Linked DNA regions of Homo sapiens: all the other regions are linked to region 3. The links come from fine-mapping of genetic effects on gene expression. A gene starts in region 3. Each other region holds a variant in brackets. All regions are shown on one strand. Distances are from middle to middle. Region 1 overlaps LOC105379168 (a long non-coding RNA gene). Region 2 overlaps LOC105379168 (a long non-coding RNA gene). Region 3 holds the start of ISOC1 (isochorismatase domain containing 1).

What was found. PIP is the estimated chance that this variant, and not a neighbour inherited with it, causes the effect.
Region 1: its variant is the best candidate, but not a certain one, in a credible set for the expression of ISOC1 in whole blood (TOPMed, PIP 0.76).
Region 2: its variant is the best candidate, but not a certain one, in a credible set for the expression of ISOC1 in atrial appendage (GTEx, PIP 0.74).

The regions. Positions count from the first base shown.
Region 1 is chr5:128,923,590-128,932,086 of GRCh38, reverse strand. All of the region lies in intron 6 of LOC105379168 (a long non-coding RNA gene), which reads right to left. Among named protein-coding and RNA genes, the nearest start is that of SLC27A6, 38 kb to the left of the region's middle. RefSeq lists a silencer at 5,874-6,074. The variant C/A (reference allele first, on the strand shown) is at 4,305.
Region 2 is chr5:128,813,408-128,821,904 of GRCh38, reverse strand. The region is part of intron 4 of LOC105379168 (a long non-coding RNA gene); the gene reads right to left. Among named protein-coding and RNA genes, the nearest start is that of SLC27A6, 150 kb to the left of the region's middle. The variant C/G (reference allele first, on the strand shown) is at 5,084.
Region 3 is chr5:129,090,946-129,099,442 of GRCh38, reverse strand. ISOC1 (isochorismatase domain containing 1) reads right to left here and starts at 4,694. Exons shown (of 5, transcript NM_016048.2): 1 at 4,368-4,694. The coding sequence starts at 4,676. LOC124901060 (a long non-coding RNA gene) reads left to right here and starts at 2,664. Exons shown (of 2, transcript XR_007058926.1): 1 at 2,664-2,894; 2 at 4,044-6,517. MIR4633 (microRNA 4633) reads right to left here and starts at 1,755; the gene lies at 1,677-1,755. RefSeq lists a silencer at 4,297-5,076.

The DNA.
Region 1 (8,497 bases), 170 kb after region 3:
ATGGTTTGGACTGGCCAAGTTCAACCATGTTAGACTCCTCATACCAAAGCTCAATCCAATTTCTGCTTACAATGTCCTCACAAAAGCAGTGCCAACATGTTGGTATTGGATGATTGGTAAGTCTTATTTAATATATACTGATGGTATGCTTACTGGCTTTTATTTCTGTAGAAATGTGTTAAATATTTCATTCATTTATTTAACGAATATATTCAGTACCTATTGTATACCAGATACTAATGGATTCTAGGGATACAGCGTGAAATATCACAGTCCCCTCTTTCAGAAAGGGAGGTGGACATGGCGCTATCCGTATGATAGTTTATATAATGAAGGAATGAACAAAGTGTATTGAGCAGCTAAAGAAAAGAATTCTTGAGTTTCTTGGAAAAGTCAGATAAATTTTTCTAAAGGAAGTGACATTTGAAATGAACTTTTTAAATCAAAGAGTAAAGGTGAGCCAGGCTTAGGAGTTTCATGTGGGTTTCACCTGGGCTTGGTGTGGTACAGCAATGTAACTTGGTCTATTTGCATTTTATTTTAACCATCTACCACCAAAGATTATGGTGGAAATTAAATGAAATGATAAAGAACACTGCATGCACATCATAAGCTTCTAGTAAATATGATATATTCTTGCTTTCTGTGCTGTTTTAATACAAGATATTTACTCATTCTAGGCATTAGGGTGACATAATCTAGCTCAGGACTCACAGATGAAGAAAAGCAGAGCCAGTAAGGCTGGTCAGCCACAGCCACCCAGGTAATTAATCACCTGAAATCATTCCCAAGGTTAACTTCTGACTCTTCCAAAAATTAATTCACTTCACTTTTCATTTTTTTTTTACTCTAAACATGTGAATATTTCAAGGTTACCATGCCTAAATAAGGTAGCACTTAGAAATTTATAAAAAAATGAGTAACATATTAAAAATCTTCACATTGTTTTGACTATGATAACCCTTCAAATTATTATTATTATTAGAGATAGGGTGTCTCTGTTACCTAGGCTGGAGTGCAGTGGTGTGATCACAGCTTACTGTAATGTTGAACTCCTGGGCTCAAGCGATCCTCCCACTTTAGCCTCCCAAGTAGCTAGGACTATGGCTGTGTGCCACCATGCCCAGCTAATTCAATAATTTTTAAATCAATTAGATAAAAGATTAAAACTGTCTCTTCTTATTTTAAAAATTATAAGTATTTTCCCCTTTCTTCTTGATAATGTAAATATTTGTGAGAATAAGTTTATCTGTCCCTTCTGGAAGCTAACTTTAGTAGCCATATTCTTAGGATGTTCACACAGGGATGAAATCACCCAACAACCCATTTCTCAGAATGACCCCCCATTGCTAAGTGACACATGACTCTGTTTGGCCCATGAACAAGAAATATTTTTTTCCAACACATTAATACTTCATTGGATAAACTAGATGATGCCCCAAAGATCCTGTCCCTTCATATCTCAGAATTCAGCAGATGTAGGCAGCCCAGCCTTAATCATGTTCAAATCCGAAATCACAGGCAATACCTGTTAATCATGTACTCATATTGTTTAAAATCTCTACTGCTTAAGAATTTATATGAATAACATCTGGGCCTTACATCTATTTCTCAATATCACACTGCAAGCAAAGAGAAGAAAAATTTCTAAAATTGTATTTTTAAATGAAAATTCATGAGCTTAATGCTGGCAAATATCACGTTTTCAAATTTTTCTAAGCATCAAAACTGCTATTTATATTCATATTCTATTTTTACTAATTGTATCTACATGCTCACTGGGTAAGGTAAATTAATCAGTCTAAATGAAATTATTTAGACTGATTTTTACTAGTCAGTAGTAAAAACATTTTTTTTTGCATTTTTGTTAACTGACTAGTATTTCATGCTTGTTTCATTCGATATTTCACAAGTGCTTATTTGCTACAAGAACACAGTTGTGCTCACTTAACTTCGAAGCAGTTATAAGGAATCATCACATTTACATGTGGGTGTTAATCCAGTACAGATTTGGGAAACTGGTGGCATTTTAAGTATGAGTTAAAGTTTTCAACATATCCTTATTGGATTTATATACCAAACATTTAGTCTGAAAACTCTTGTGCAATGAGGACAGTTGAAATGTCAAAACATAATATCCTAAAGAGGAAAACAATGGAATTTAATGGGCACTTTCCCCAACAAACCTACTTCTTTGCATTTGAGGACCCCTTGCTATGGCCTATTGATGAGAAGTTGTGCAGAAATTAAGGCACCAACTGGATGAATCAACTACGAAAATTTACACTGGCCATCTAGCTTGTTACTGGAAAGAATTAAACTAGATCTCACAGTCTATTAACAAATACTAAATAATCTTGATAATAATAATGATACTTATGCAGAAAAATACATGCTTCTTTACACTGGTCTTTAGATGACTGCAGATGGCATTAGACACATTTTTGCTTCATACACATTTCTTTTCTTGTACATACCCAGGACGGGCCCCCAGCATGTGAAACGGAGTGGCCATAATGAATTAGTTTTATTCCCCAATGATACAACTAGGGCTCCCTTCTCTTTCATTGCTTATGACTGCCTTCCCTTTTCTCCCTCACTGAATATTGGTCTTTTGTTGCCCGACCCTGACCCCAACCAGGATTTTTGACAGTAGAAGGGATATAATGAGGATCCTGTTGAAGAAAGGAAGGTGAAAAAATCCCAAGATAGATTCTTTCTCTACTTACTCTCTCACCAGCAAGCTGAATTATCAATTCTCCTATCAAACTTTCACCTCTCAATGTTCCCATCCTTTCCTTCACAGGCCTCTAATGAATATTTTTGCAAAGAATCTCTGAGATAGTGTTCTTTTGCATAAAGCAGAGGAAAAATCCCTAATGTTGAGTTAAACCTCAGGGAAATAGATTGCAAGTCATTGCAAACCAGAGAAACCAACTTACACAGTGGCAGATTTAAAAAGAAAGGGAACTACTAGAAAGGCTGGAGAATCAGACATGGGCAAGGTAAGGATAAAAGGAGGCTGGACACAATGATTACAGCTAAAACCACACCACCAAACACCATGTGGATGCAGATACTGTTATCCTTCTTGCTGGCTACGGGGTGCAACATGTGGCACCCAGGCCCATTCCACAATGAACAGTGTACTCTGTTGTACCACTACCCATGCAGCCAATGTTAATTTATGCTGCCAGAATGAATTCTTGCTCCAAACCAAGAAACTGAAAGGGTCACATGCTCATCCCTTATTTCTAGGGGCCAGAGAAATAGTGTGTCTGGACAGTGGCAATTTTGCAGTAGGAAACATACCCTTATCTCTCCAGTTTTCATGAGGTAGAGAAGTTTCCATAGTGAGGAGTTTCAAAGCCCTAAACGTCAAAATAAACTAAATGTCCAGTATAGTGTGACATTTTCGAGATGATTTGAAATTGTTTATGTTAGTTTTTAGACTTTTTTTTAAAGTTTTTTTTAATGTTTAAAGCACAGTTCTTCAAACTGTGAGGTATAATCTATAAAACAGTCATAAAATTGACTTAGTAAGCCATGATAACAAACATTTTTTAATAGAATGGAATAGAGTGTGCATATCACATAGTAGGATGAGTTTTGCCCTGTAAAACTTTTCTTTCACTTATGTCTATGTAGAGGTACATATTTATTTAATTATGGTGTCAAATGCTTTTATTGCTGCAGATCATGTAAAAAAAAATAGTTGAAAACCACTGCTCCAAAGGACTGTATACTTGATTCAGGAACTGGAGACTAGAGAAGAACTGTAGTTTCACAGGGCAGTGGCCTGGGAGAGGAGACAACCCATAGCCAGAAGAACAGGCCAGGATAGTAGAACTAGAAATATGTGGACCAATCTCCTGGCCCTGTAAGAAATGCAATTAGAAGCTGATGCAGAACCAAGAGCCCCTGGGGACTCCTTTTTTCTCTTCCTATTGTCCTTTACCCAAACCCCAGATGGATGGAACTCTTTGTCCATATCCCAGTAATTATTCCCAGTGACTGAAGAGAGTGTGTTGGAAGAGATTACAGCCGTGAGACGTAATTTGTCATCTCAAGTAAGAATCTGCTATGAATTTTCCTCTGAGAGAGCTTAGAGTACAATGTTGGAGTCAGTGTTATTATTGCCATATTTAGGCACACTGTGAGTTAGGTAGGCTACCTGTATAATAATGTTCAATTTCTAAACAACTGACTCATAATAATTTGGCAACTTCCTCTAATAGTTCTAAGTGGAAGTGGGGGTTGGTAAAAGCCATGTGGACAATAGAGGAAGTATCTTTTAGTATAAA[C/A]ATATGAACAGGCAGTAGAAGCCATGTGGAAATTGCTTTGTCATCTTTCTCATAGCGCAAAAATTCTTTTCAGATAGCTTATAACATTTAATTTGGCATTTGCACAAATTATAGTAATATAAGATATTTTTGATGTTGCCGTACTTTGTCATTACTCATTTTCAGGTCTCCCTAAACTGAGTTATAATTAATTTGAAGTTTTTGAAAGGAAGTCTCTCAAATATTTTTTGTGGGGGTAGATCTCATGATATTATCATTTTGATCTTCCTGTGTACCATGCCAGGGCATTTCTTCTTGCCAGGGGAGAATGCATTGAATTGTATAATTTATCCAATGATTAAACATTGTTGGCTGGGTGTGGTGGCTCACACCTGTAATCTCAGCACTTTGAGAGGCCAGGGCGGGTGGATTGCTTGACCTCAGGAGTTTGAGACCAGTCTGGGCAACATGGTAAAACCCTGTCTCTTCTAAAAATACAAAAATTAGCCGGGTGTGGTGGCGGGTGCCTATAATCCCAGCTTCTTGGGAGGCTGAGGCATGAGAATTGCTTGAACCCAGGAGGTTGAGACTGCAGTGAGCCAAGATTGCACCACTGCACTTCAGCCTAGGTGACAGAGCAAAACTCTGTCTCAAAAACAAAACAAAACAAAACAAAAACACTGTTTTATAATTCAGACTGGCTTGGTGTGGTTAACAGGACATGGAGCTAGAAGAAAATCATCCCCCAAAATATAGATATATATTTTTCTCACAGAGAACTATACTGTGAACTGCTAAGGAATGTGATTTATTTACTCCCTTGTACCCAAGCTGAATATAAAGCTTAACACATAACTGACATTCAACAAGCCATTCTTGAATTGATAGTCACATTTCTCTCTAACATTTACTGAGCACTTACTGTGAGCCTGTTACTGTTCTATGGTCTTACTGTACATCCTTTACTAATTTAATCTTCACAAAAACCCTGTGAGCTGGATCTTACTGCTGTATAAATTTTGCAGTTGAGGAAATGAGAAAGGTTAAATCATTGCTCAAAGTACACAGCTCATGAGAGGCCAAGCTGGGATCTTAACCTATAGAGTCTTGACTCGAGAGTCCACATCTTTGATTACTGAGTAAGACTGCCTGTTGTGACGGTTAAGTGTTAGTGGAAGGAAAGAGGACCACAAGGAATATTGCCAGAGGTTTTATAGGAATGACCAAAATGAGAATAAAGGTAAAATTATAAAATTTCCTAACAGTGTGCCATTTACTTTGCTCCGCCTGCCTTTAGTGAAAGCCTCCAGGGCTGTAGATTAGAATCTGTTTTAGTGGGATGGACCAGAATATCTCTGAATAATAGGGGCTTACATAAGTTAGAAGTTTATTTCATTATTGTGTAAAATAAGTCTGGAGGTAGAAAGTTCATTCCATGTTTTCATAAGAACACAATTTCTGTCTTTCTGCTCTATCAGACTAGGGCAAGTTTTCCGTCTTCGAGTCACCTCATGACCCAGGATAGTCTGTGAAACTCCAGCCATTATATCTGAGGGTGTGGGCCAAAAGACAGACAAAAGGCAGAATAGTGATGAAAAAAAAAAAAAAAAGATTTATCTCCTTTCTCTCTGCAAGTCAGCTACTTCTAAGTGACATTGACAGAAATCACACATAACACTTCCGTTGACATTTCTTTGGCCAGTGCTTAGTCACATGATTGCACTCAGCTTTAAGGGAGCCTGTGAAATGCAGTCTTTCTATTCACGCATCAATGAGCTCAGCTAAAAATCAGAATTCTGTTCCTAAAAAGGAAAGGGTAAATGGATATTCAGGTGGGCAACTAGAAGTTTCTGCCACACTGCCTGAATGATATGTCAACTATTCCATGAAATCTTTCTTTTAACTTCTAATGTGATATGATCTCTCCTTTCTTTGAATTCTACAGAATATTTTGTGTGCTTCTAATTGCAGTTTTTATTACCTACAATTACCTGTAAATACTCTTGCCTTATCCTTACAGTTGATGCTAAGATCTATGAAGCCAGTTACTATCACAGTTCTTGCATTCCATGCATTAAAAAGAATAGTCTTACACTGAGTAGATGCTCAATAAAAGTGAAATGGAATCTTTTTTTAGGTACCATTTAGGGAAAGAAAGGAATGATCATAAATGAAGTTCCTATGAAGACATAACATGTAGATTATTTCCAACATATCAGTTAGACTGTAGAGTTTTCAGCAAATTAGAATTATTTGAGCTCCTACTTTGTCATAAGTACAGTACTAAGTAATAGAGATAATTTTAGTACATCATACAGGCATGTTTGAATAACATAGAAAATGGGAATGATTAGCTATAATAATTATCATTATTATTTCCTTCAGAAAGTTTCTATGCAGAGTTTAACAAGTATATAGATACAGATGAACTACATGAGCAAATCCCCAGTATTATCTGAAATAGAAAAACCAAAATGTAAACAAGAGAGCATACCACAAGAATAATGGAGAAGCTTTTCTCAGAAACTGATTTTAAAAAAACCTAGAAATATTGGATTCCTTGATAATTATGAAGAAGACACCATATCTTATTTAGTAGCACATCTGATTATTGGGAGATGCATTCAGAAAGATCTTTAACCAATGGTGTTTCAAAGGAGCCAGGAAAGACAGAATGTTGATAGAAGGCAATATGGCTGAAGCTAGGAGCTCCAGGCAAAAGTGGTATTAAGAGACCTGGCACAGAAACAGAAAAGTATGGGCATGGTTGGTGAATATCAGGGCTTTTGCTGTAATCTAGAAGGGATCTAAAGTGGACATGTGGTGGGAGAGATGAAACCGAGATAAAGGATGTGTCCCCAAATTCCTAGGTTGAAGCTTAGTCTCCAGTGTGATGATATTTGGAGGTGAGGTCTTTGGCAAATAATTAAGTAATTGGGGTGGAGCCCTCACAAATGGGACTAGTGCCTTTATAAGAAGAAACATCAACATTGGTCCAGTCATTTCTGCAAAATGGAGCAAATTAATCATAATATTCACCTCATTCTCAAAACCTCTTCTCAAATGTAGCTCATCTTAGACTCCTGCCAAATTGAACCACTCATTGCTTTCTATAAGCTCTGTGCTATCCTCCTCCCACACTTTGGATGGTATGCCATCCCACCACCTGAACAAAAGTCTCCCTCTTATTCAAAACCTAGTTAAAAATATCCCTCTGTCTCGAAGCATCCCCTGACACTCCTAAATCCCAATAGTACTTGCTTCAGCACTGGCTATAGTACAGTGTAATCATTAAAGCATGGCATCTAACTGGAATCTTGCCCTGGTACAGACTGTGTGATCTGAAGTGAACTATTAATTTCTCTAAAAATGGAAAGAATACTACTGACCTCCCAGGGCTGAGCTAAGGATTACACAAGATAGGGCACTCAAAGTACCAGTACCTATAATACAATACGATGACTACAGTTAATACAATGTATTGTATATTTGAAAATCACTAAGAGAAGAGATTTTATGTGTTCTCATCACAAAGAAATAAGTATGTGTGGTAACGCATATGTTTGCTTGACTTAGTCATTCCACAATGTATACATATTTCAAAACATCATCTTATATGCCATAAATAAGTTCAATTTTTACTTATCAATTTTAATAAATACATTAATAAAAAGTACCAGTACCAAGAAATGGTCACTGTGTTAAATATTTATATCTTTGAATCTCCCATAGTTTTATGATAAATGTCTTATTAGTGACGAATACCTATTAGGTGGCCAACTCTGCCTGGCACCACTGTTGGTCCTAAAGATACAGCTGTGAATAACAAGGGCAATTCTTTGCTTGTATACATTACTTTTCAGTGTTAAGACAATAAAGTACATAAATACTTTTTAAAAAAATAAAATTTGGATTGGTTTTATGTAGAATATTAAAATTAAGTCATGTTAAAGAGGGATTGGGTAGCTACTTTCTATGGGTGGTTATGGAAGTTTCTCCTAAGATGGGACATTCTAGCTCTGACCACAATCTTTTCACCACTACCCAACAAAACAGGACATAATAGTATAACTTTTCTTACAAAAGAAATTATTATAATATATGGTTCTTTATGTCTGTTTTCTCTCACTAAGCATGTTTTCAAGGTTCATAATGTTGCAACATGTAGAAGTATTTCATTTCTTTTTATTGTGGAGTAATATGCCATTATATCG
Region 2 (8,497 bases), 280 kb after region 3:
AAGGAAGCTGTCAGTGTTTAAACAAGTTTTGGGTCTTTTAGGTTGAACTAGGGGTAGCAGTACGACTTCCTATAGTCTATCTTATAGATAGAGACCTGGCTACCTGTAGCTGAAGAATGGGTTGATTTCCTGCGCTGGTCACTGCAGGTTGTGGGCCTGTAGAAAATAAATGCTTCTAAACAAAAGACTGATTAAACAGGCAGCACAGTCACAGAGATTTAAAAGTACAGAAATAGATCTAAGTAATTATGCAAATTTTGTGTACTCTATATATTCAAATTAGTGGATAAAAGATAAATAATTCAGTAAATCATAGAGGGATAACAGTCCGACAATGCTGAAATAATAATACCAGATTATTATTTCAACCTGAATTTCAAATAAATTCCAAATAGATCAAAGTCTTAATGATAAAGGATAAAATTTCCAAAATAATAGAATATTGGAGTAATTTTGTTTTTATCTTAAAGTCTTTCAAGCAAGATCTAAATTTTAAAAATCATAAAGATTGATAATCAATTACACACATTAAGATTTTCTACAAGGCCAAAAATTGCCATAAACAAAATAAAATACAAGTGAACAGCTGGTGTATAACATAACACACATCAGGCAATATATTATTTTACTTATAAGTCAAAGTACTACTTTACTTAGTAAATAAAAGTACTATTTTAGTTACGAATCAATAAGGAAAAGCCAACACCTGTTCAAGATGGATTAAAGACTTAAACGTTAGACCTAAAACCATAAAAACCCTAGAAGAAAACCTAGGCAATACCATTCAGGACATAGGCATGGGCAAGGACTTCATGTCTAAAACACCAAAAGCAATGGCAACAAAAGCCAAAATTGACAAATGGGATCTAATTAAACTAAAGAGCTTCTGTACAGCAAAAGAAACTACCATCAGAGTGAACAGGCAACCTACAGAATGGGAGAAAATTTTTGCAACCTACTCATCTGACAAACGGCTAATATCCAGAATCTACAATGAACTCAAACAAATTTACAAGAAAAAAACAAACAACCCCATCAAAAAGTGGGCAAAGGACATGAACAGACACTTCTCAAAAGAAGACATTTATGCAGCCAAAAAACACATGAAAAAATGCTCATCATCACTGGCCATCAGAGAAATGCAAATCAAAACCACAATGAGATACCATCTCACACCAGTTAGAATGGCAATCATTAAAAAGTCAGGAAACAACAGGTGCTGGAGAGGATGTGGAGAAATAGGAACACTTTTACACTGTTGGTGGGACTGTAAACTAGTTCAACCATTGTGGAAGTCAGTGTGGCGATTCCTCAGGGATCTAGAACTAGAAATACCATTTGACCCAGCCGTCCCATTACTGGGTATATACCCAAAGGACTATAAATCATGCTGCTATAAAGACACAGGCACACGTATGTTTATTGCGGCACTATTCACAATAGCAAAGACTTGGAACCAACCCAAATGTCCAACAATCATAGACTGGATTAAGAAAATGTGGCACGTATACACCATGGAATACTATGCAGCCATAAAAAATGATGAGTTCATGTCCTTTGTAGGGACATGGATGAAATTGGAAATCATCATTCTCAGTAAACTATTGCAAGAACAAAAAACCAAACACCGCATATTCTCACTCATAGGTGGGAACTGAACAATGAGATCACATGGACACAGCAAGGGGAACATCACACTCTGGGGACTGTTGTGGGGTCGGGGGAGGGGGGAGGGATAGCATTGGGAGATATACCTAATGCTAGATGACGAGTTAGTGGGTGCAGCGCACCAGTGTGGCACATGTATACATATGTAACTAACCTGCACAATGTGCACATGTACCCTAAAACTTAAAGTATAATAATAAAAGAAAAAAAAAAAAAGAAAAACAAATTGAGTACTCAATAAATAGTTAATTATAATGGCTTATAATCATATTAAAAGATGCTCACTTTCACATAGTCAAATATATAACAAATGAAATCCAAATGATATGTATTTTTTTCACTTTGATTGCAAACATTTCACACTCTTGTTGATATATAATTTACATATCATTCAATTCACCCACATAAAGTATACAATTCATTGTTTTAATATATTCAGAGTTCTGAAACAATTTGAAAACATTTTCATCACCCCACAAAAGTGATAATGCTACCGATTAGCATCATGTGCCATTTCCCCCATTCCCAAACATTAATCTTCTTTCTGCCTCAGTGAATTTTCCTATTCTCGATATTTCATATAAATGAAATCACATTCATTTAATGTTCACAAAATGGTTTTTCATGACCAGCTTCTTTCACTTAGCCTAATCTTTTCAAGGCTCATCCATTTTGTAGTACATATCAGTATTTTATTGTTTTTTATTGCCAAATAATGTTCCACTTTATTGATCCATTCATCAGTTTATGAATATTTAGGTTGTTTCCATTTTTGGGTATTATGAACGTGATGCTATGAACATTCATGCCCATATTTATATGTTAGGTATTTACCTTGGAGTGGAATCACTGGCATATTTAACATTTGAAGAACTGCCAAACTGTTTTCCAAAACATCTGTAACAGTTTTCATTCCCACCAGCAATATATAAGGGTTTCAGTTTTTCCATATACCAACCAACACTACTTACTGTCTAAGTAAGTCAAGAGTACAGACTCTAGGCCTAGATTCTCTTTTTTATTGTAATTATTCTGCAAAATATCTGTTCAAATCTATTGCCATTTTTTAAATTGGGTTGCTTGTCTTGTTGTTGTTAAGTGCAAACAGCTCTTTATATATTCTTGAAACAAGTCCCTTGTTAGATAATAATTTTCAAACATTCTCTTCTTTTCTGTGAGTTGTCTTTCCATTTTCTTGATGATGTCCATTGAAGCACACAAGTTTTTAATTTTGATCAAGTCCAATTTATTTATTTTTGTTTCATTACTTGTACTTCTGTGTCTAAGAAGGCTTTCCTAACCCAAACTTATGAAGATTTACTCCTATATTTTCTTTTGAGAGTTTTATAGTTTTAGCTATAATCTATTTTGATTTAATTCTTCAAAGATTGAAGGAAGAAGTCCACTTCCTTCTTTTGCATGTGAATACCACTTGCTCCAGTACCATTTGCTAAAAAGACAATTTTTATCATTTGAATTGCCTTGGTTCTTTTCTAGACATAGACAATTCTAGATATAGGGTACCAATTGGGCATACTTCTAGACTCTAAATTAAATTATATTGGTATATATATATATATATATATATATATACACACATATATATATATACACATATATATATATACACATATATATATATACACACACACACACATATATATATATATATATACACACACATATATATAGTCAGTACCATGCTGCCTTTATTACTATAGTTTATAGTTAGTTTTAAATTCAGGGAATGTGAGTTATCCAAGTTTGTTCTTCTTTTTAAGGATTTATTGGGCTACTCTTGGCCCTTGTATTTACATATAAATTTTAGGACCAGATTGTGAATTTCTACAAAGAATCCAGCTGAAATTTTGAGAGGAATTGTTCTGAATCTGTAGATAATTTTTGGAGTCTTTTTATCTAACAATATTGAGTTATCTGATCAATTAACATTTGATGTCTTTCTGTTTATTTAGGTCTCCTTTAATTTTTTAAACAATGTTCTGTAGTGTTCAGTTTATAAATCACACACTTCCTTGATTAAATATATTCCTAAATAGTTTATTCCTTTTGATGCCATTGTAAATTGAATTATTTTCTTAATTTCATTTTTTTGTATTTTTATTGCTAATATAGAGAAATGCAACTGATTTTTGTGTATTAATCTTGTATCCTAAAATTTCGTTGAATTCATTTTTTAGGTTTAATAGTTTTTAATGAGTTTTTTTAGTATTTTCTATATATAAGACCATGTAATGCATAAATACAGACAGTTTTACTTCTTCCTTTCCAACCTTTCCAATCTAGATGCTCTTTATTTCTTTTTCTTGCCTTATTTCCTTGGCTAGAATCTCCAGTACAGTGTTGGATAGAAGTGATGAGAATGGACATTCTTATTTTGTTTTTGATCTCAGAGAAAAGATTTTCTCAGTCTCTCACCATTAAAAATGATGTTAGTACTGGGATTTTTACAGATGCATTTTATTAGGTTGAGAAAGTTTTCTTGTATTTTAAGTCTGTTGAGTATATTTATTATAAAGGGTGTTGGTTTTTTTAAAATGTTTTTCCTGTGGCTATTAAGATTACCCTGTGTCTTCTGTTTTTCATCTTATTGATATACTATATTACATTAATTGATTTTAAGATTTAAACCAACCTTGTATTTCTCAGCTACATCCCACTTGTTAATTGTATATAATGCTTTTTAAATGGTGCCTGGTGGGTTTGATAGGTTTTCCTATTCTGGATATTTCATATAAATAGAATCACATTCGTATAAGTGGTCACAAAATTTCTTTTGTGTTTTCAAGGTTCATTCATTTTATATTTGGTTTGCTAGCATTTTGTTGAGGATTTTTGCAATTATAATTACAAGAAACATTTGTCTTTTGTTTTCTTTTTTTGTGATGTCTGTCCAATTTTGATATTAGGGTAATACTGTTTTCATAGATTGAATTGGGAGGTTTTCTCTCATCTTTTGTATTGTAGGAATAATTTATTCACAATTGTTAATTATTCTGTAAATGTTTGTTAAAATTCACCAGTGAAGTCATCTGGGTCTGGGATTTTCTTTGGGGGAAGCTTTTAAGTTATTAATTTAATTTATTTACTTGTTGTTGGTTATTTCCAATTTTCTATTTCTTTTTGAGTCAGTTTTGATAATTTGTGTCTTTCTGGCAATTTGTCCATTTCATCTAAGTTATCTAAGTTTTCAGCGTACAAAGTGTTCATAGAATTCTCTTATAATTTTTTGAAAATTTTCTGTAAGGTTGGTAGTAATGTTCCCTCTAAAGATTAAAACATTTTTAGTATACAATGTTGACATGAATGTAGAGAAAGTCTTGCACACACTTTGGTAGGGACTGTGAATTGTAAATTGATGAAACCTTTTCCAAGGAAGAGATTTAGCAGTTAGATT[C/G]AACAGAACATGGTGGCAAATTAGATGGGGGTGGTAAGATGCAATTAATGACAGCCTGGAGTATTTTAGCCTCAGTGATAAGAAGACGGCTGTTTCACACACAAATAAAATGAAAATAGGGGGAAAATCAGTTTTAAAAAGAAACTAATACATTTAATTATCAATTTTTATGTTGGATTGTTAGATGAGTTGTAGAGGTAGAAATGCAATCAGCCAATCAGAAATTCAGAATTACTATTTAGAAGAGAATAATTTGGAGATCTGTGTTGAAACAACAGCTTTTTGAACCTCCATGGTCAGATGAAGGTATTTTTATTTTTATTTTCAGAACTAAGTATAAGAGACAGAAAAACAAAATACGGCAGAACTTAGAAGCATACCTACAATTATGGAGCAGAAAAAGAGAAAGAAATTATCACAAGCTGAGCTGGAACATTTATAGGGGTAGAGGGAGAACTAAGAATAACATTGCACAAACCAAATAGAAACTGTAAAGGAGAAAAGGAATAAGAATATCAATTATTCTATGAGATCAAGTATGGTAATGACTGGGAAGATGTTACAGGGCCCAACAAATAGGACGTTAAGTTTGGCTTTTGAAGAAGTAGTTGATCTACCAAAAACTCATAAGAATTTTTTCCCAAAAGTTACTTATTTCAGATTGTATTAGTTACTAAAATTGATTTAGCAGAAATATGTTCAAGTGCTCAACTGTACAATTCTTTTGAGTCCTAACATATAATCATCCTTACATATCATAAATATAATTGCCATTAACCATATTTCTGTGCTGAAACAGAAATTCAATATTTTTGCACTAGATCAAGGAAATTGTTTATATACTTTGCCAAATATTTATATCTCATTTTATATGTTAGCTCACTGCTACCAAATATTGAAAAACCAAATGGATCCCTAAAACCAAGATGAAATGTTTCCGACTGAAAGATAATATTGGGGGCTGAAATTTATCTTGGCATAAGTTTTATCCTGTGAGTAGAGAGTACTAAAATCCGACCTTATTCTCTTGTGAAAAATTTTAAAAGGCTACATTATCCCCTAAATAGTAACTGTCTGGATGTCTGACCAGAATATATTCCATCTGGTCCTTGGTTTAGGCAAGTAGAGACATAATGTTAGAGACGTAATGCAAGTTGTAGCAAATTAGGAAAATTAAGCCACATAAAAATGTCATTATGAAACTGTTAGGACATTCTCAGAAAACTGTGACTCAGTGAAATATGATGTGGAAGCACTCTGCCCTAGGTGGTAAGGGAGCTATAGCTTCCTGTTCGGTAGGCTTACACACCAACGGGAGTCCTGCTGCCTAGACTCTTTCTGTCTCATGGAAGCCATCTGCCTCTCAGCGGACCTGAACACCTGAGTCTGCAAAGGCAAGGCCAGCTCCCTATGCAGCCCTTAGCCTGAGCAGGGCTTCCCTGCATTCCTGAAATTCGATCCTACTGATTGCTCTAAAGGGCTACAGATTTGGCTAATGGCACTAGTATTTGGAACGGAATGGGCCCTTGAAAGGTCTCAACTGTAAAACAAGTCCTGTGAATAAGGAGTTTAACTTTCACATTCCACTAAAGCTTCAAATATGTAACAGAAAAATAATTGTTTTCTTTTGCTCAAAATAAATGGCCATTTTCTTATTTTATATCTTTGTTGGAATTAGCAATATTTTCTATTTTTTCCTAAGATTAATCTGCACGTAAGTGATGATAACTAACCATGACTCTGATTCCAGCCTGACTTGGTGAAATTTTAGAAATGAATGTTGTAAGGGCAAAGGGCTGAAAAAGTTGTTATTTTTGTTTGTCTGTTTGTTTACCTACCCAGGCAATGCTTCTTGTAATGAAATACTTTTCTAAAAAAATTATGAACACACCAAAAACCTCAGGATAACCTCTCCTTCCACCTGCTCCCAGACCCAGAGAATCAGGATCTATCATAAGATAAAAACTGGATTAGTTAGCAAACCACAACACTGCAGTCGTACAAACTCTTTCACCTTTTAGCACAATCCACTTCTCCTACTTTTCACTAACCACCTTTCTTTATTCACTCAGAGAAAGCAATTCATGAGAGGAAGTTAGGCAAGGATCTGCGCAGAGCGACAACCGAGGGCACTGGCAGGGACTCACAACATCTTGTGAGTTTTGTGACATACTGCAGGACAGGGAAGAGGTCATTGTCCTCGGAAGTAGTGTGCTTTGGTGTGTTTTCATATGTTCCATGAGTTTACAGCATCAGATATCAGAAGACAAGGATAGGTGAAGATGCTATCTCTGCACAGATGAGGTACACCATGTGTATATCTACTAGAAAATGCCTCCTAATTGTGCAACCAAGAAAGAAATTCATCAATATCCCAAGACAATAAAGATTCCACATACTCTGACTTTTGAGGAAGTATGGCTCAATCATATACCTTATGGGAATAAATGGAGAAAATTAAAATGAGGACTGTGGAAAGAAAATTACCAATTAAGAGGAATGAAAAATTGCCCTTTTTCGCTAGATGCAGCAATGTCTACAGTTTTGAAGAGAACAATTTAGTATTCAACAATTTTATTCACAAATGGTCCTTCTTGTGTGAAGGTAGCATAAATACATCCTTGGGTATATTAGACCTTAGAAAATATGCCAAACGTGTGCTCTTCTTTTAAAAATCACTCATTAATAAAAGAGGAAGGAAGCAAAATTAAAAGATAAAAATGGGGAAAATCATGAAATAAATGGTCTGGCAACAAGCATTGAAATCAGCTCAATGTGGAGTTTATGCTAAACCATTATATATTTTGTTACAAGATAGCAAATAAATGCCAAAAATAATTCTTCAAAGACACTTAATAGAAAAAGAGCAACTTAACGCCAATAATTTGAATAAAATTCTGAAGCCTGACTTCAAAAACAAATTGACCAATAGAGAGCCAGTGTTGAAAATTAAGTTTACAATTGCAAAATATTTGAACATTAAGCCTTAACTTAATAATGTTGTCCTGCAATCAGAAACACCATAGTGGGGGAATGCATTATGGGGTGTGCAGTACCAAAGTGTTTGATAATGTGACCTCTTGTACTAGGCCTTGAGAAAGAGCTGATATAATCATATATGAAGGTGCTTTTTCCAATCTTTTAAAATAAAACACAAAAACAACATGTAAATTCTTTCTTTTTTTCCCAAACAACAGTAAGAATAATGTAGTTTCTGGTTAATATCTGAAGCATGATAATGAGAATACTGGTTACACACGGGGGCATCAGGAAGGAAATGAGGCACCATGGACTCACCATGTCGTATTGGAAATCACAGAGCAGAGGGGCACAGGCCCATTTTTCCACTCGAACTCTGAGAGGAATAGGCTACAATGTTTGCTTTCCTTGATCCTGGGGCAGCCATAGTATAAC
Region 3 (8,497 bases):
GAACATTGATGTCACTGGCATAAGGTTACAACCCTAGCTTATCAGTTAAGGTATGAGTTTTCTAAATCCCCAAGGGACGCCAGCTGTCTCCACCCACCCCAGGGGTGAGGACTGAAGGATTTCTTAAGACTGTGCCTCAGACTGGGGTGAAGGTGAAGCTAGACAAGCCCAGGACCACAATGACATTTGAATCTACATTGGGATTCCCTTGGTTAGCTAAATGCAAGAAAAAAAATTCAAAATTCAGATCATAGCTCCTACTCTCAAACACAGTTTATTTATAGGTAGCTCTAATGTATTCAGAAGGAGCAAAAAAGGATACAATGCTTTAGGTATTATTCTGGAATGTTAATTTTTTTTTAAGTGACACACATCAAACCAATGGGGTAGAGACAATACAACCACCTCAGGATCCAGCTGTCTCCTCTCTGAGCATTAGCTCATCTACCCCCTCTTCCTGCCACGCTCCTGAGGCAAAGGTTTTGTAATCAAAAACCACTACCTTCAAACTATCAAGCCAAAGGCGAACAAGGTTCCTTTCCTCCTGCCTTCCCTCCCTTCCCACCATGAACCTGTCAGTCTCTTCTAGCTATAAAATGTTCATGCCCCTGTTTAAAATAATAATAATAGTAATAAACTTCCAAGAAAATGAAAGCTGGAGCAAAATGCCCTGCCAGTTAACCATCTTGGGAAAAGGTCAAAATAACCTTCCCTGGAACGCCCTTATCTTCTGGCCACAGAAAGCTGCCAAAGCCTTCCCTGCTATGTACAGAAGTAAAATCCCCTCACTGGCATCCTTCTTACACTGTCCATTTCCTCCTCTCTTCTCTGCAGGCTCTGTCTTTCCTGGCCACAGGCTGGAAAATGCACTGGTGGTAGCATGATACAACATTTATGTAAATTTCCATAGTTAAATGTTTCCTTTACCTAAAACTTACAAAATACCTTTTGAAAAATTAAAACTTTTAAGTCATAAAAATGACGTAAATCCCCACTACATAATCCTCTCATTTATATTCTTTCCCGTGTCTCAAAATTCATCAGATCTCAAGCATTTGGCAAAGCTGCAGACATACAAACCAAGCATGAAACATGAGCTATGCCTTCATCTACCTGAGCTGTCGGCAGACATTGTTACTTTGACAGAATATTTAAGAAAAGAAGTCACCAAAAACTTACCACAGCCTAATACTGGCAATGGGGGGTCTTAAAGATCAGTTCTCATAGAACCACTAACAAGCACGGGTGCAGTGTGGCAAAGGCAGCCACTGTGTTTCACAAGGTCATCAGCCACAGCTGTCAGAATAAGCACGAAGGCAACTCATACCACGGCGCAAATGAAGAATACATTCTAGACTAACAGTACGTGAGCCAGGGCCACAGAGGCTCCAGGGCCCAAGTGTGGAGAAATAATAAATCACTATTTACGCAATGAACTACATGTGGCCAAACTTGTGCTCTTTGTCCCTGCCTTCAAGAAGGGGCCAACCATCCCCAGTAACATGGACTCACCGATAGGCCACCTTGAGTCTTCCTAAGTGACAAGCATTTATTCCAAAGAACAAGGAGCAGCACCAAGACAAATGAACAAACAAGAGCTCAAGTTTGTGACTTGTTTTCCAGACTGCTCAATTCTCATTAAACATGCAAGCAGTAGTGCTGTGTTCGGCTGTAAGTGACGCTCTGCATATGCCTGGCTAGCTCCTCCACACGCATTTGTGGAGGAGCTAGCCAGGCATATGCGGAGACTTGCCATGTAACCTGCAGCAAGTTACTCACCTCCACCTCCCTATGTTCTTCTGCACTTCCTCAAAGTGAAAGTTCATTTATTAGGTAAGGAACAAGAATTGAATCCAAGTTTGCATTCACTGTGCCAGGCATTTAAAGCTGCCACTCACATGTTGTGGAATGAACTGTATGGTCTCTTACAGCCATAAAACATCCAAGTCTCTAGGATTATGCTGTTAGGTTCCAAAGAATATAGTGTACAGTAGTCATGAGAAATATCATGACTTTCTGAGATTATACACACATATGCATATATATGTATGTGTGTATATATATCTCTCTCTTCTCATATAGACATAAATCGGTATCAGAAGGTATATACGATACACAGTGTGTGCATATTTATGTATCTATCCCCTTCCTTTATCTACCTCTAAGCTAGGAGAGGCATCAGGCTGAAGAAGTCAAAGTATAACTACTAAAATGAGATAATATAGAAGAGAAAATATTTTTAAAGAATTAAAAATATAAAGCTATATAAATGCAAAAATATAACTAATGCTTAAGAATTATTAGACTAGTTGGCGGAAAAATTTCTTCTGAAGAGGGAGTAGAGTAATGCTATTGTTATTTTAAACCTCACCAAAAAAAAGTGAACTATACATAATCTCCTATACCAAGCAAAACACTGCAAAAGCTACAGGTGACCAGAATTATATAACGCCTTTTGAGAATGTACAAGCGTTTTCAGGTACATACATTTCATTAATTTCTAGAATGTTTTTAAGAGTTGCCAGACCAAGGCCCTGAAATTTTCAAATATAAAAATCCTATCTTGGAAGGCGGGGACTCTTACAGAGCTGGGGCCTAGTTTAGAATAGCATTATCTTAGATAAGAGCCCAGCCTCCCTCCAAGCCGTAACAGGAAATGCTTCATAAAGAAGTCTGCATCCTTAGTCCCAGACCTCCGCAGTTAGTATTTGGATTCTAGCCTTTATAAATGGACTTCTCAAAGGTGCATCCAACATCTGAGTATTCTGGCAGCAGTAACGTAAAAGGACTGACAAGGAAGGCTGCAGAGAGGTGTCAGACACGAAAACGCTTGAAGACATAAAAATGAGGAGTCTTAAGCACCTAAGAACTGCAATTCCCTATCTGAGCAGCAGGTAAGATTCTGGGGTATCAGATCACTGTATCCAGTTCCAGGTTCTCCACTGGCAGAGAGTGCAGTCTCTGACTTTGTCCTCTGAATGCAGGAACTTTATCGAAGCTAAAGTACCTGCTTTGGACACTTCTGGCACAGGTGTTGGGGTGACAGGAAACATCATCAATTCAGCTGCCAACTACAGCGGAAAAAAACTAGGGAATAATCCTCAGAAAATGGCACTGTTAATGGGTACAAAAAACACAGATAATAGGAATAAGCTCTAGTGTTCAGTAGCACAATAGCGTGACTATAGTTAACAATAATTTATTGTATATTTCAAAATAACTACAAAAATGAATTTGGAACAAAGAAATAAATGATAAATGTTTCAGGTAATGGATATTCCAATTACCCTGATTTGATCACTACACTGTATGCTTGAATCAAAATATCACGTCTCCTATAAATATGTACAACTATTATGTGCCCATAAAAACTAAAAACAAAAAAGAAAGAAAATGACACTTAAATATTAAAATACCTTTTATCCCCGAATCCCACATTTCAGTTTGGTCTTCTGAAAAAATGACTTATCAGTTTCTCAGCTAAAGAAATGATATCGACAGTGTACTACCTAAATTATACCTTATATTCTTTCCTTTCCAAAATATAAATTCGCCAGTGAACAATCTGATCCTAAAGAGGGCGGAAGATTAACCCGCCTAGCATGAGAGCACAGCTTAAAATAAATGCTGTTAAGTAGTCCTCAGGTAGAACAACTTTCCCAGCCAGCAGGCCCAGGAACTCAAGGTCTAGCTTAAGTTGGGTATTTGTATTCAAGAAGGAATTACAATCATGGAGTCAAATGACTTTTTCAATGCAGACGACAAAACGTAATCAAGTCAGTAGACACTTTACTAAGAGGAGGCTAAGCAAATGGTTATTTGCTTAAGGTTAGGGAACTCTTAAGCCCAAGGACCTGAGAGCCTGGGAAGGCGGGGGGGAATGGGTTTGACTCCCAAAGTTTGCGTTTCCGCAAGTGGTTAACACAACTCTAGGAACAAACCCTAAGACCAATACTCCCCACAATCTCATTTCCCCCCATTCTGCATCACCCATCACCCCAAAATAAAAACAGCTACTACAGCACAGCCCTTTGGTTACGCAGGAGGCTGGGACCTGATCCTGGCATAAAAAGCGGATGCGGGCGACCGAGGACCACACACGTGGGGGCGTTCGCGGGCGCTGAAACCAGCTACGAGGCCCACGCCCCCGCCGGGGACAGCTGGTGACCATCACCTTTGGACAGGGGCATTCCCCAGCCGGCCCCGGAACTTGCGAAAGACGCGCAGCCCTTCGGACTCAGCCACTCGCGCAGGGCCCGGGTCCCGGGCGGCTCGGGGCACCTGAGGAGCGCGGCGAAGGCGGGGACAGGGACGGGGACGGGGACGACTCGGGAACAGGGAAGCGCGCGGCCTCCCGCAGGACCCACCTGGATCTGCAACGGCACGAGGCGCACCTTGCAGCGCTCGCTCACCGCGAAGCCCTTGGGCAAGTCCACGTACTGGCCCCACTCCTCGGCGAACAGCTGCACCACGAATTTGCGGTGCATGTCGATCTGGTCGCCGTACAGGCTGAGGAACTTCTGGATGAGCAGCTCGTAGCCCGCCCCGTGTGGCACCGACGAGGGTCGCGCGAAGACTGAGAAACAGAAGAGCACCGGGACTGTGCCCGACGGCGCCCCCGCGCCCCCGGCGCCGCTGTTGGGGAGCGCAAGGACCGCCGGCTCCGCAGCCGCCATGTTCCCCCGAGCGTCTGCGAGCTCCGAGGCCGCCCAGTCGCACCCAGCCGGCTGCCGCGGCCCCGCCTCCCGGCGATGCCAGCCCGCCCGCCAGCTCGCGGAGGCGAAGGGGCGTGTCCTGACGACCGCTGCTCGCGCGCTCTCTTACCCGCCCCGGAGGGCGGGCCGCGGCGTAAGGGTGGGTGGTGGGGCCGGGGTGCGCGCGTGAGCCAGGGAGCGCCTGCGCTCGCCGGCCGGGTCCGCCCCCTCCAGCTTCCCGGGCCGCTGCGTTCCCGCAGTTCCCCGCTCGCGCCCTTTCTGCCGCGGTTCTGACTGCCGGCAGAACGCCTAGTGGTCTCGCAGACCCAAGACCCGCCTGGGCTGCCCGTTGTTCTTGCCCCGGTGCTGCAGCTCACACAAGGGTTTGTACCACCCTTCCCCTAACGCTGGCCCTCTTCGCGGCTTCGCTCGCCTTCGAATGAGCAGTGTTCTTGGCAGTCTAGGGTTGTGGTTGGGTACACAGAGCCGCCAGGACGAGTTACCTGTTGGCTCTGTGCAGAAGCATGCAGTCCTCCTCGAGATGGCAGTGGTATCTTACAACCAAAGGGACAGTCCGATAGATACCCTAAGAAGAGCAGCAGAATTTAATCCTTAGAGGGCCAGTCAAGGTTCAAGTTTTGTCTTTTTTCGGTCCCACAGAACACAATATCTCTAGGAATGGATTTGATATCTGGCCTCCCTTCATCTCAACCTATTTCTGGGAGGACTTGGATTTGGGAATATAAATACTATTAAAAGCAAAAATCTGAACTTTATATTGAAACTAAGGATATCTGTTTTTAAGTAAGTAAAAGGGATCACTTTCAAATAAAACAATCCTCTGCCTTCTGCACACTGTAAGGCGCTATAATTAACTGGAATTAGAAAGCATGCATTATGAACAGAATTTCCTTGGAATTGAGTCCTGCGAAGATAGGCATGGGCCTAAACATAAAATTAGATTTTAGGTATTAAAGCTGTCCTCTTCTAAGAAAATAACCTTTAAAGCAGGGTTTCCCAACTGACACTGTTGACTTCTGGAATGGACATTTCTCTTTCTTGGGGATGGGGCATCTTGTGCATTTGCAGGATATTTAGCAGCATCACCGGCTTCTACTCCCGCTAGATGCCTAGTGACCGCTCCTCCCTCTAGTTATGGCAATCAAAAATGTTTCCAGACATTGCCAAATATTCCCCAGAGGGCAAATATACCCCCTACTTGAGAACCACACTGCTTTAAAGTTATGAAAAGACCATCCTTTGGTGTTTCTTGCTCAATTGTACCGAAGCTACTAGAAATAGCCATTTTTTTCTGGTTCTCATCACACTTTGAGAGATCCCATTTAAAAGTGTTGTCTGAACCCGTCAGACCCAAAATGATATTTTTTTCCGGATACCACTCCATTGCAAGGTCTTCTATATGCAGATATGCTGATTTGTGCTAATAAGTGTACCCCCTCAAGACCTGATTACCAAAAGGTACCTACCTATTTTGGGTGGACTAATAAAAGTGTTCCTTCCACCCTGTAAAGCCTCCTAACACAGAGTAGGTTGGAGATTAGAGATTGGCCTAGACTTCAGACATCCTCAGCGAGGACCTTGGCATCTACACAGTCTTCTGCCGTGGCCCTCATGGCCGTGAGTCAACATACTTCATTTCCCTTTCATGTTTTTAAATTAGGTTTCTGACCCTTCAGTAAGGAAATCAACTTCCATATATATTGTGCTGTCTGAGATTGGTCCTTGACAACCTAGTTTAATGGTGCAATCATTGTGGTAATAGCATGTTAAATAACATTAATAAAATAGATATTTGATGGGCACATTTACCATTTATTGAATATCAACTGTGTATCAACCTCTGCATCACTGGGCTGCAAAAGGGAGGTGAATGCACATTTCAGTGATAAATTATTATCCTCAGAAATACAATTATTAAGATAATTTTTATAAATGTTACCAGAAAAAGTGAGTAAGACCCCATAAATGAATATTCAAATGACAAGTAGAAAATAACTGTTCTAATTGACAAGATCATATTATGGACCAAATGCCCAAAATTTTCTCATATAGGACTCTCAGTAGCTTTATTAGTTAATGTTAAATGCTTACTTTTAGAATCTAAATTCCAAGAAAATCAAGAAGGTATATTACACAGTATTGATTAATACATTAATATGCTACAGAAACAAACCCCAAAATCTCAATAGACTGATAAAACAAAGGCTTATTTCTCACCTTTCCCAGTTAACAGCAACATTTGACAAACCAATTACTCCCTTTATTTTGAACCATATTCACTTTGTCTTTGGGATACCACTCTCTCTTATTTCTCCTTCCACCTCACTTCAAGCTCGTTTCCTATGTTCCTCTCATTCCCCAAACCTCTATAAATACAAGTATACCAGAGCTCAGTCCTCACATCTATTATCCTAAGACTGTGGCTTTAAATATCACCCATATACCTTTGACTTCCAAATTTTTAACATCCAGGCCCTCACTCTGCACTCCATACTCATACACAAGTGCCTATTCGACATCTCCACTTGGATATTCAATAGATACCTCACATTTAAATGTACTAACAGAACTCTTAGTTTTCTTCTGTCCTCGAATATTTTCTCTCCCCTGTTGATATCTAGGCAAATGGCAACCCCGTTTTAGTAACTGAGTACAATAACCAGGGGTTTATCCTTTAATTTACTCCTCTTTCTGTCCTTGTCCAGTCTATCAGCAAGACCTGGTGGTCAGAACCAAATTCCTCTCATTCACACCAGTGCCACCACCTAAGACAAAACCACTGTCGTCTTCCATCTAACTGTAACTCATCATAAGTTGTGCCCAATATTTGACTTTTGTATCCCTATTTATCCATTTACCTCATTTACATAGACTTTTATACTCCATTTACCACACGGCTATTAGAGTGGCACTTTTTCAAAAACATAAATTTAGAGCGTGTCACTGCTGTGTTCAGAATCCTCCAGTATATAAAAATAGACCTCAAGACAATCTAGATGTTAGGATTAAGAGAAAAAGAACTTTAAAGAAGTTGTTACAAGTATATTCAAGGTCTTAAAAGAAAGGGTAGCCATAAGACTGAGCAGATAGGGAATACCAGCAGGGAGATGGAGATGACTGAAAACATAGCCAAATGTCACTTTTCAAGCTAAAAGTGCAATGTCTGGAGTGAAATGCTCACTGGGTAATCTAAACTTCAGATTATAGGTTCCAGAAGAAATGATTAGTGAAATTGCATGCAGAGTACTAGAAATTATCCAATGTGAAGAACAGGAAGAGATTGAAAAAAGTATGATGACAGTTTTAGTAACCTGGAGGGCAATATCAAATGATCTAATATGTAGTTGGAGTCCAAGAGGGAGAGATGAGACAAGAATGGAACAGAAAGAATATTGGAAGAAATAATAGCCAAAATAGCACTGTCTATTAAGTCTTCAGTGTGCTGATTTTTATCTCAGAGTCTGCTTTCCAGGGAAATCAACCTGTGACATTTGTTGCTAGGAAAGATGAAAGGAGGCCAATGTGGATGGATTTTGGAGCTGGGTCACCCACTGTTGGGCAGATAATGAATACCTAACCACTAATATCTGTGGAGCACAGATAGCCCCTGGCAGTTTTTTTAAACTTCCAGCAAGATGAACTAGAATCATATACTACTGGAAAGGAATGCCTTCACTGTAATTAAGAATTTGAAAAATATGGAGGAAATACTAATTATAAGAATAAAGGAATTGAATGACAGTTTCAAAGTTTGATTGATGCTCTAGAAAAAGACCAAAAAA